2 separate regions of the Homo sapiens genome follow, and region 1 is reported to be linked to region 2. The links are microRNA targets in miRTarBase. Many come from high-throughput screens and were not tested one by one. Region 2 holds a microRNA gene; the other region holds the end of a gene's coding sequence.

Region 1 (4,065 bases), not on the chromosome of region 2:
TGGCCAACATGGTGAAACCCCATCTCTACTAAAAATACAAATATTAGCCAGGTGTGGTGGCAGGTACCTGTAATCCCAGCTACTTGGGAGGCTGAGGCAGGAGAATTGCTTGAACCCAGGAGGCAGAGGTTGCAGTGAGCCAAGATTGCACCATTGCACTCTAGCCTGGGCGATAGAGCGAGACTCTGTCTTCCAAAAAAAAAAAAAAAAGGGAATTAGGTCACATCTCCTCATCATCCCCTCCTTCCTGGGGATGGCATCCCAGTTACAGTTTTTCCTTCCTAGCTAGGGGCAGTGAGATTTGTTGTCTGGTCTACACAATAGCGAACACAAACATTCTCATCTCCTGCAGCATGGCATACAGACTTTACAGAATGTCCTGTGTTTTTGTGGCTGACAATCAAAGTGGTACATGTCCCTCCCATTCCGCACACACCTCTGCTCTTTACCCTGATTAAATTTTCTTCATCGAATTTCTTGGATGTTGACATATTTATTGTCCGTCTCTCCCTGCTTGAGTCAGAGAGTTTTGCCTGCTGGGTACACGGCAGGTGCTCAGTAAATATAGCAGAATGGCGCGTTCCCTGCCTCCCATGACACTTCACCACAGCTGACTTTTTCACATGGCTCAGGGCCAAGGTCATTGCCCAACACCCTTCTCCCTCCAGACTGTGGGCTCTGCAGGGTCTCCCTCTGTGGTGTCTACATAGGCTCCCCAGGCTGGGCACAGAGGAGGTGCTACTAGATGTTGATGTACTTTCTCCACAGGCACAGCCACTTCCTGCCTCCTGAGGACTCCTCTGACGGCAGGAAAACTGGACATGAATGACTGCCCCCACGCCCCTCCCCTGCAGAGTGGCCAGATGGAGTCCTGAGCCCTGGACATGGGCCCGGCTTTCCTGGATATCAGGACTTCCAATAAATAAAGACTCTGTATACTGGGCTTTGATTCCTGCCATCCGTACCTGAGAGGGTCCTAGGAGAGCTGGCTGGGCAGAGTCATCTGTTCCCCAGCTTCACCGGGTGTGCCAAGGAAGTGCCTGGGAAGAACAGGACTCTGCAGCTGTGCCCCAGGGTTGAGACTACCCTGCCTCCCTTGTGAACTCTGCCACACAGCCATTTCCTGACTTCTGCTGCATGTGCCTGGGGTAAAGACCCTCAATCCCTTCCACTCTAGCATTCCCCAAATTGTTATTTTTTTTTAATATATATATTTTTTATTTTATTTTTATTTTTATTTTTTTTTGAGACAGAGTCTCGCTGTCGCCCAGGTTGGAGTGCAGTGGCACGATCTCGGCTCACTGTAGGCTCCGCCCCCCGGGGTTCGTGCCATTCTCCTGCCTCAGCCTCCCTAGTAGCTGGGACTACAGGCGCCCGCCACCTCGCCTGGCTAATTTTTTTTTTTTTTTTTTTTAGTAGAGACAGGGTTTCACCGTGTTAGCCAGGATGGTCTCGATCTCCTGACCTCGTGATCTGCCCACCTCGGCCTCCCAAATTGCTGGGATTACAGGCGTGAGCCACCACGCGCAGCCTATATATATATTTTAAAGACAACGTCTTGCTCTGTTGCCCAGGCTGGAGTACAGTGGTGCGATAATAGCTTACTGCAGCCTCGAACTCCTGGGCTCCAGTGATCCTCTGCCTCAGCCTCCACAGTAGCTAGCACTACCGTAAGCACTTGACACAGTGCCTGGCTGCATTCTCCAAATCTGTTTTCAGTTTTCTGGAGGCTTGGGGGGTGATAAATAATATGCGTCTTTCCCTGCTGAATTCAGAATCAACTGGGCAACAGAGGCATTAGGCAATGGAGATGAAAATACTGGCTTTATTATTGAAAACAACCACATGGAAGGATGTATGGCTTAGAAGGCCATGTACTGGATTTCTTTTCTTTCTTTCTTCTTTTTTTTTTTTTTTTTTCAAGACGGAGTTTCACTCTTGTTGCCCAGGCTGGAGTGCAATGGCGTGATCTCGGCTCACTGCAACCTCTGCCTCCTGAGTTCAAGCAATTCTCCTGCCTCAGCCTCCTGAGTAGCTGGGATTACAGATATCCGCCACCATGCCTGGCTAATTTTTGTATTTCTAGTAGAGATGGGGTTTCACCATGTTGGTCAGGCTGGTCTCAAACTCCTGACCTCAGGTGATCTGCCCGCCTCAGCCTCCCGAAGTGCTGGGATTACAGGCACCGGCCGCCATGCCCGGCTAATTTTTGTATTTCTAGTAGAGACGGGGTTTCACCATGTTGGTCAGGCTGGTCTGTAACTCCTGACCTCAGGTGATCTGCCCACCTCAGCCTCCCAAAGTGCTGGGATTATAGGTGTGAGCCACCGCTTCTGGTCTATGCACTGGATTTCTGTTCTTAGTTTCCAGTTTTCCAGAAGCCAACTCAGAATTTGAGTGCAGATGGTAATTTGAATTTGATTCCAGAAACACTGATAGAGGAATGGAGAAGGGAGACAATAGAGAGGAAGGCAGCCAATAAAAGGTGCATTATCAAGCGAGTTACCACTCTGGGCAACTGGGACTCAGTCCCACTGGGGACCTGTGGGGGACTTTATAGAACATAACCCAGTTACCCTATCAAGGAGCAAGGGAATTGTGTTATCTACCAACTTCCCATCTGTCATTAAGGGGTATTTTCATGGGCATTGACTGGTACTTCTGGCCTGCCCTTTATAGGCCAAGTTCACTTCTGCCATCAGAAGAGGGCCGTAAGCAGAGTATAATGGGATCAAGTGAGCAGCCTTAAACCTGCGGAAGAGATGCTGAGTGGATCTGGGCAGGTACCAACAGTGGCTGCTGTGGCTTCTTCATGCTTCTCAGGAATACAGGCTCCTGCTGTTTGATACAGGCTCCCCAGTAGGGACTGGTCCTAAAGAATAGAAAGCAGACAGGCGTGTATGCAATAGAGGAGGAGACCCCAGAGTGCTGAGCTGAGCATGCCCATGGCCTGCACCCACATTCACCATTCAGACGAGGCCCTCCTCCCTGGAGGTGATCCCAAACCTCTGGAAATTGGAGTAACTGGCCATTTGATACCCAAGGATTATGCTCGGCTTGGAAGAATGAGCCTGGCCTATGGGAGTCTCTCCTAGGGATTAATCTCCAAGACAAAGGAAGTTGTTCATTGGTTTAGGAGCCGGGTAGAAATCCTGTAAGTTCAGGGTTGCAAGATTTTATACCATTTGTCTGAGCTAGGAGGAAACCCAGGTAGTGGAGAGAGAATTGTGATCAGTTCCTGTAACCTGCCACAATCCCTGGTGGACTGAAGAAAGGGTGGCGAATGCAGGAATAAAAGACAAGAGACAAAAGAGTATATTTGGAAGAAGGGGTCAGGGGGCACCTTGCCTCTAGTGGACAAGGGCCCTGAGCTTTACACAGCTTTCTGTATTTATTAGGCAAAAGAGATAGCGAGAAGGCAGGTAGAAGAAGAGGTCAGCTTGTCCAGAGTAGGCTTGCAAGACTGCATTCCCTAGATGTCGCAGTAGATAACCTCAAGGAGCTCGGCGCCAGGAAGCGACTGCCCTCATCAAACCTTCTGGGGCAGGCACAGAAGTGAGTTTGTCCACATTCTGTATTAATGGTAAACAGTTTGCTGTTTGATCATATAGCCCCAGTGGAATGCTGAGTTGGTCACATCCCACAGGCCTTTGGCTCCCTGCAAGTTCCTGTCCCTGAAAGGGTCTGGATCCTGGTGGCTTTTTGTTTCCATCTCTAGTTTCCATGGGCTGTGGTGGATGTTTTCAGCCCACTCCACTTGCTTGAGTAAGCTTGAGTGGGGTTCTATGCCATGCAACTAAAAGAAGTGTGATTAAAACAGACAAAATGGAGATCCAGACTACACTTTAGAACATCTCTATGTGTCCTGTCTTACAATAGGCTAGACTAGCTTCTTTATATGATGGTCTCAGGGGTCCAAGAGAGTGAAAATGGAAACTTCAGACATCACTTTTACCACATTCTATTGGTCAAAGCAGTCATGAGCCCAGCTGAGATTAAAGAGATGGGGAGACTTTACTTCTTGATAGCATTTGGCTGCAAAAAAATTGTGCCTATATTTAAATT
Region 2 (4,065 bases):
TGGGCCTTAGTTTCCTCAACTGTCAAGTGGGAATAGTAATCCTTACACTGCTTCCCTCACAGAGTTGCTCTAAGGTTCAAAAGCAGTAACACGTATGAAAGGGGTCTGTAATATATAAAGATGTGAATATTAGGGGCATTTGAAACATCATGAATAAACGTTGCTATTTCTGTTCATGAATTTTAAGCTGTTTGTTCTTGCAAGGTTCCCAGTCATCCCTTCCCAAATAGTGCTCCTTAAAATTTTCATCAGGATTTTGAATAAACAGGAAATATGTCCATTTCTCTCAGTATTGATTACTCTCTAGGCTGTCTGACAGACTCACACTAAATTGCCAATCTGCTTCTTAGGAGTCAGGAGTGAAAACATCAGAGTGGGTGAGAGCCTGGTGGGAGGCCTGTGAGCTGGGAGTTATCTGAATAGAGATAGCATACTGGCTGTGGGGCTAGACTCCTCACCATCATCTTGGAACATGGCTGGGAAATAGGTCCAAAGGGTCATTTGGACAGCAGATCCCAGCAGCCTCTGTATGAGATCTGTCCAGGAGACTAACCCCATTATATGGGATGGCAAGAGGGGGAGGTGACTGGAAATGAGAAATGGGACCAGGCTGACCAGCTACACTCTCAGATAGAGACTACCCTGACAAGGGCCTAGGCACAGACACAGAAGTAGTTGGGTGCAGGGCTCTCAATTCATCCTTCAACCCTGCCTGATATCACATCCTCATAACCCACATTGCTGTGGCCATCTGCTCCCTCTAGTTTCTGGCAGATTAAGGCCAAAAACAACAGCAAAGCATTTTTGGATCAAGGTCCTGCCTGGGGACAGAGAAGTAAATAATACAAGTCCCTGTTCTTAAGTAAGGCACTAGACCAAGACGGTTTGAGCCTAACTAGAGGCTCTCTTGCATAGCAAAGTCTCTGGCACATGGGTTATATTCAAGAATTGTTTGAACCGAACTGAATCAAAGGAACCTACATTCTGCAAGTTAAGAGCACCTGTTTGGTGTCAGGAGCCCAAGACTTCTAGATTCAATCCTGGTTCTGACATGTACAATTCAGGGACTCTGGACCTCAGTTTGCCCATCTGTAAAGTGCACTTTGTCTACCCCACAAGTTGCTATGAGTAGCCAATGAAGTAGTGGCTCAGTAAATGGCACTCTGTAAATGGCATGAGATGGAACAGCAGGAGCTGATGGGAGCACGGGCGCACATGATCTTAAAAGTTTAGAGTCCAGCCTGAAGAAGACCTGAAATAAGCTCCTTTCTTTCTCCCCAGTCAGCTTAGATCTGCTTTTCAAACACAGCAGACATTCTCTGCATTTCTGGTGACTGTGAAAAGGGGAAGGGGATAATTTGCCACTAAGTAGGGGATAGAAAGAAAGGTTGCCATCTTTATACTTTTCAAAATAAGAGCACGGGATTTGGATTTATAATCCTAACTTTTGTTAATCAAAAGCTGTGAAACTATGAACAAGCCTCAACCTCTCTCAGTTTCCTCATCTGTACATTGTGGGGAAATTTCCTAAGTCATAAGATTGCAGTTAAGGTTCAATGAATTAATGATGTCAAAAGTGTTTTGAAATCCACAAAATGCCAAACAAACGCCAATCATTACAAAGTTGTCTGTCTTCTCATCAGTTTACCAGCTACATAGGACAGTGGTTATTTACCATTTGACAGGTGAGATCATCAAAGCCCAGAGAAAGTGCTTAAAGTAACACACAGCTCAATTCTGACTTCTTACAGCAGAGGTAACTGTTCCTTTACTACAGGGGTTCTTAATTAGCCTGCTTGCCTCATTAAACTGACAGATCTCTGAGGGAGGGGACTACATACATCTTACACATTTTTGTACCCCAGTGCCCATCATGGCACACCTAAAAGATGTGAAGTGTTACTAGAATGATGACTAACATATTGGTAGCAGAAACATATCTAGAACTCAGGACTCCTAATCCCAGATCCAGGGTTCTTTACAACCATACAGTGGCCCAAACCTCATAGACTCGGCTTGCCTTAACATCTCATCTCTTCCTCAATTCTCCACTCTAGCAAGATTCAACTTTCCCTTCAGAGCCTGGCTTTCATAGATGCCAAAGCCAGGCTCTGAAGGGAAAGCTGAATCTGGCTTTCATAGATGCCAGTTCCTCAGCCATAACCTTCCTCATCTCTCCTTGCTGAGCTAATTCCTATCCATCTCTCAGACTTGGAGGCCTTTCTAATCTCTCCTAATACTGGGTCAGGTATTTACTTTCCTCCATGGCTGTTTTGTTTATCACAGAGTCCTGGCACACAGAATGTGTTAAAAGTATCTGTTGAAGGCTGAATGAATGAAACACTGGGTGTAGAAATCCAAAGGTGATGCAGAGAAAATTTTTTTTTTTTTTTTTTGAGACGGAGTCTCGCTGTCTCCCAGGCTAGAGTGCAGTGGTGCGATCTCGGCTCACTGCAAGCTCTGCCTCCAGGGTTCACGCCATTCTCCTGCCTCAGCTTCCCGAGTAGCTGGGACTACAGGCGCCCGCCACCACGCCCGGCTAATTTTTTGTATTTTTAGTGGAGATGGAGTTTCACCGTGTTAGCCAGGATGGTCTTGATCTCCTGACCTCGTGATCCACCTGCCTCAGCCTCCCAAAGTGCTGGGATTACAGGCGTGAGCCACCACGCCCGGCCGCAGAGAAAATATTCTTGACCTGGAAGTCATGCAGCCTGACTGATTCTAATTCTAACTCCACTACTAATGCGTTTCGTGATCTTGAGCAAGTCCCAGTTCTTCTTTGGACCATCTATAAATGAGTTACACAGTATGATCTCAGAAGGTCCCTCCATTGTTAAAAGCATATGAGACTTAGACTCATGTGAAGTCCTAGGGATGAGGAGATTCCAAAGCCAGCTATATGCTCCATAGCATAGGAGACCCAACACTCTCATCCCCCCAGGAGCACGAGAGACACACGACTCTGCTGTCAGGAGCCTCCCAGCCCATTGGTTTACTTAATTCCTCTTGATGAAGTGCCAAGAATAAATCGTAGGTGAGCAGCAGAGCATTTTAACGAGTCCAGAGCCTAATGAATCTTTTCCTTCCTGTGTCAATTAGAATTTCAAAGCTAGGATCCCCAAGGACCAATTTATTGGGAACAGAGAGAAGAAGCCTTTTGTTCATCAGCAGCTGCCTGAGCTACCTGCTCTGCTCCTGTATCTCTGCTGTGTAACAATCCTGCTTACTCAGATATAACATCTGGCACAATAAAGCCTGGCCTGGAGGCTCCTTCTTGCCCAACATTTCTGGGGTCTGAACTTGAGGAAGGAAACAAGGGTCCAGGGTATTTCTGAGGGCAAAGGTGGGGTTGGGGGTTGGTCAGGGAATCAGAGCAGTGCTGACGTTGCTGCTATCTCCTAGGGATACTGGCCTTCAAAGAGCTAACAGCCACAGATCACCAGGCTACTCACCCAACTAAGTATCTGGTACTGTGTGGCACCTATTTACCTGTTATTTTAAATCCTCACAACCTCAAAAGCAGATATCAACCACATCATTTTAGAGAAAAGGAAAAAGAGGATCTGAGAGCTAAAGGATCAGCCTAAGGAACACAATTATTACAGTAAATGGCAGAGAAGGATTTGAACTCAGGTCTGTGCGACTCCGAAGACTAAAGCTCTATCAAACCAATACAACTCTGCCAGGAGCTGATGTCTTGAATGGCAGAGATGGCCCATGGTCAGCCATAGACACATTAGGCATTTGCCACCAACACACTGTCTTTTGCCCGGGCACATGCAAGAGTGGCTGCGCATCACCAGTCCTTCCATTCAATGGAGCTGGCAATCCTCCATCCCTAGAAGATAATCCAAGCAGAGTCACCATCAACACTGCCCCCTGCTCCTACCCCAGAAACCTTTTATTTGTGAGGAATTTCCAATTCTTGATCTAATGGCTCCCATGCACCCAGTTCTCCACCTCCCATACTGTCCGCTCTAAGTCACACAGGGCCAGCCCAGGTACTACTGCTCTGTATTCAACAAAGACACATTTTCCAAGGTCAGCAGATTAGCAAGTCAGGTT

Evidence for each region. Region 2 holds the annotated microRNA hsa-miR-4755-5p (UUUCCCUUCAGAGCCUGGCUUU, at 2,101-2,122, opposite strand). A microRNA usually pairs through its seed, bases 2 to 8, with sites in the 3' UTR of a target mRNA and lowers its output. Matches are read on the target gene's strand: a 7mer-m8 pairs with bases 2 to 8, a 7mer-A1 pairs with bases 2 to 7 and ends in A, and an 8mer does both.
Region 1: the mRNA of CHCHD5 is a reported target of hsa-miR-4755-5p. The part of its 3' UTR that is shown has no 7-base or 8-base seed match.

The regions. Positions count from the first base shown.
Region 1 is chr2:112,588,098-112,592,162 of GRCh38, forward strand. CHCHD5 (coiled-coil-helix-coiled-coil-helix domain containing 5) reads left to right here. Exons shown (of 4, transcript NM_032309.4): 4 at 769-943. The coding sequence ends at 792. Among named protein-coding and RNA genes, the nearest start is that of CHCHD5, 5.5 kb to the left of the region's middle.
Region 2 is chr20:34,047,185-34,051,249 of GRCh38, reverse strand. MIR4755 (microRNA 4755) reads right to left here and starts at 2,131; the gene lies at 2,060-2,131. The region is part of intron 2 of RALY (RALY heterogeneous nuclear ribonucleoprotein); the gene reads right to left.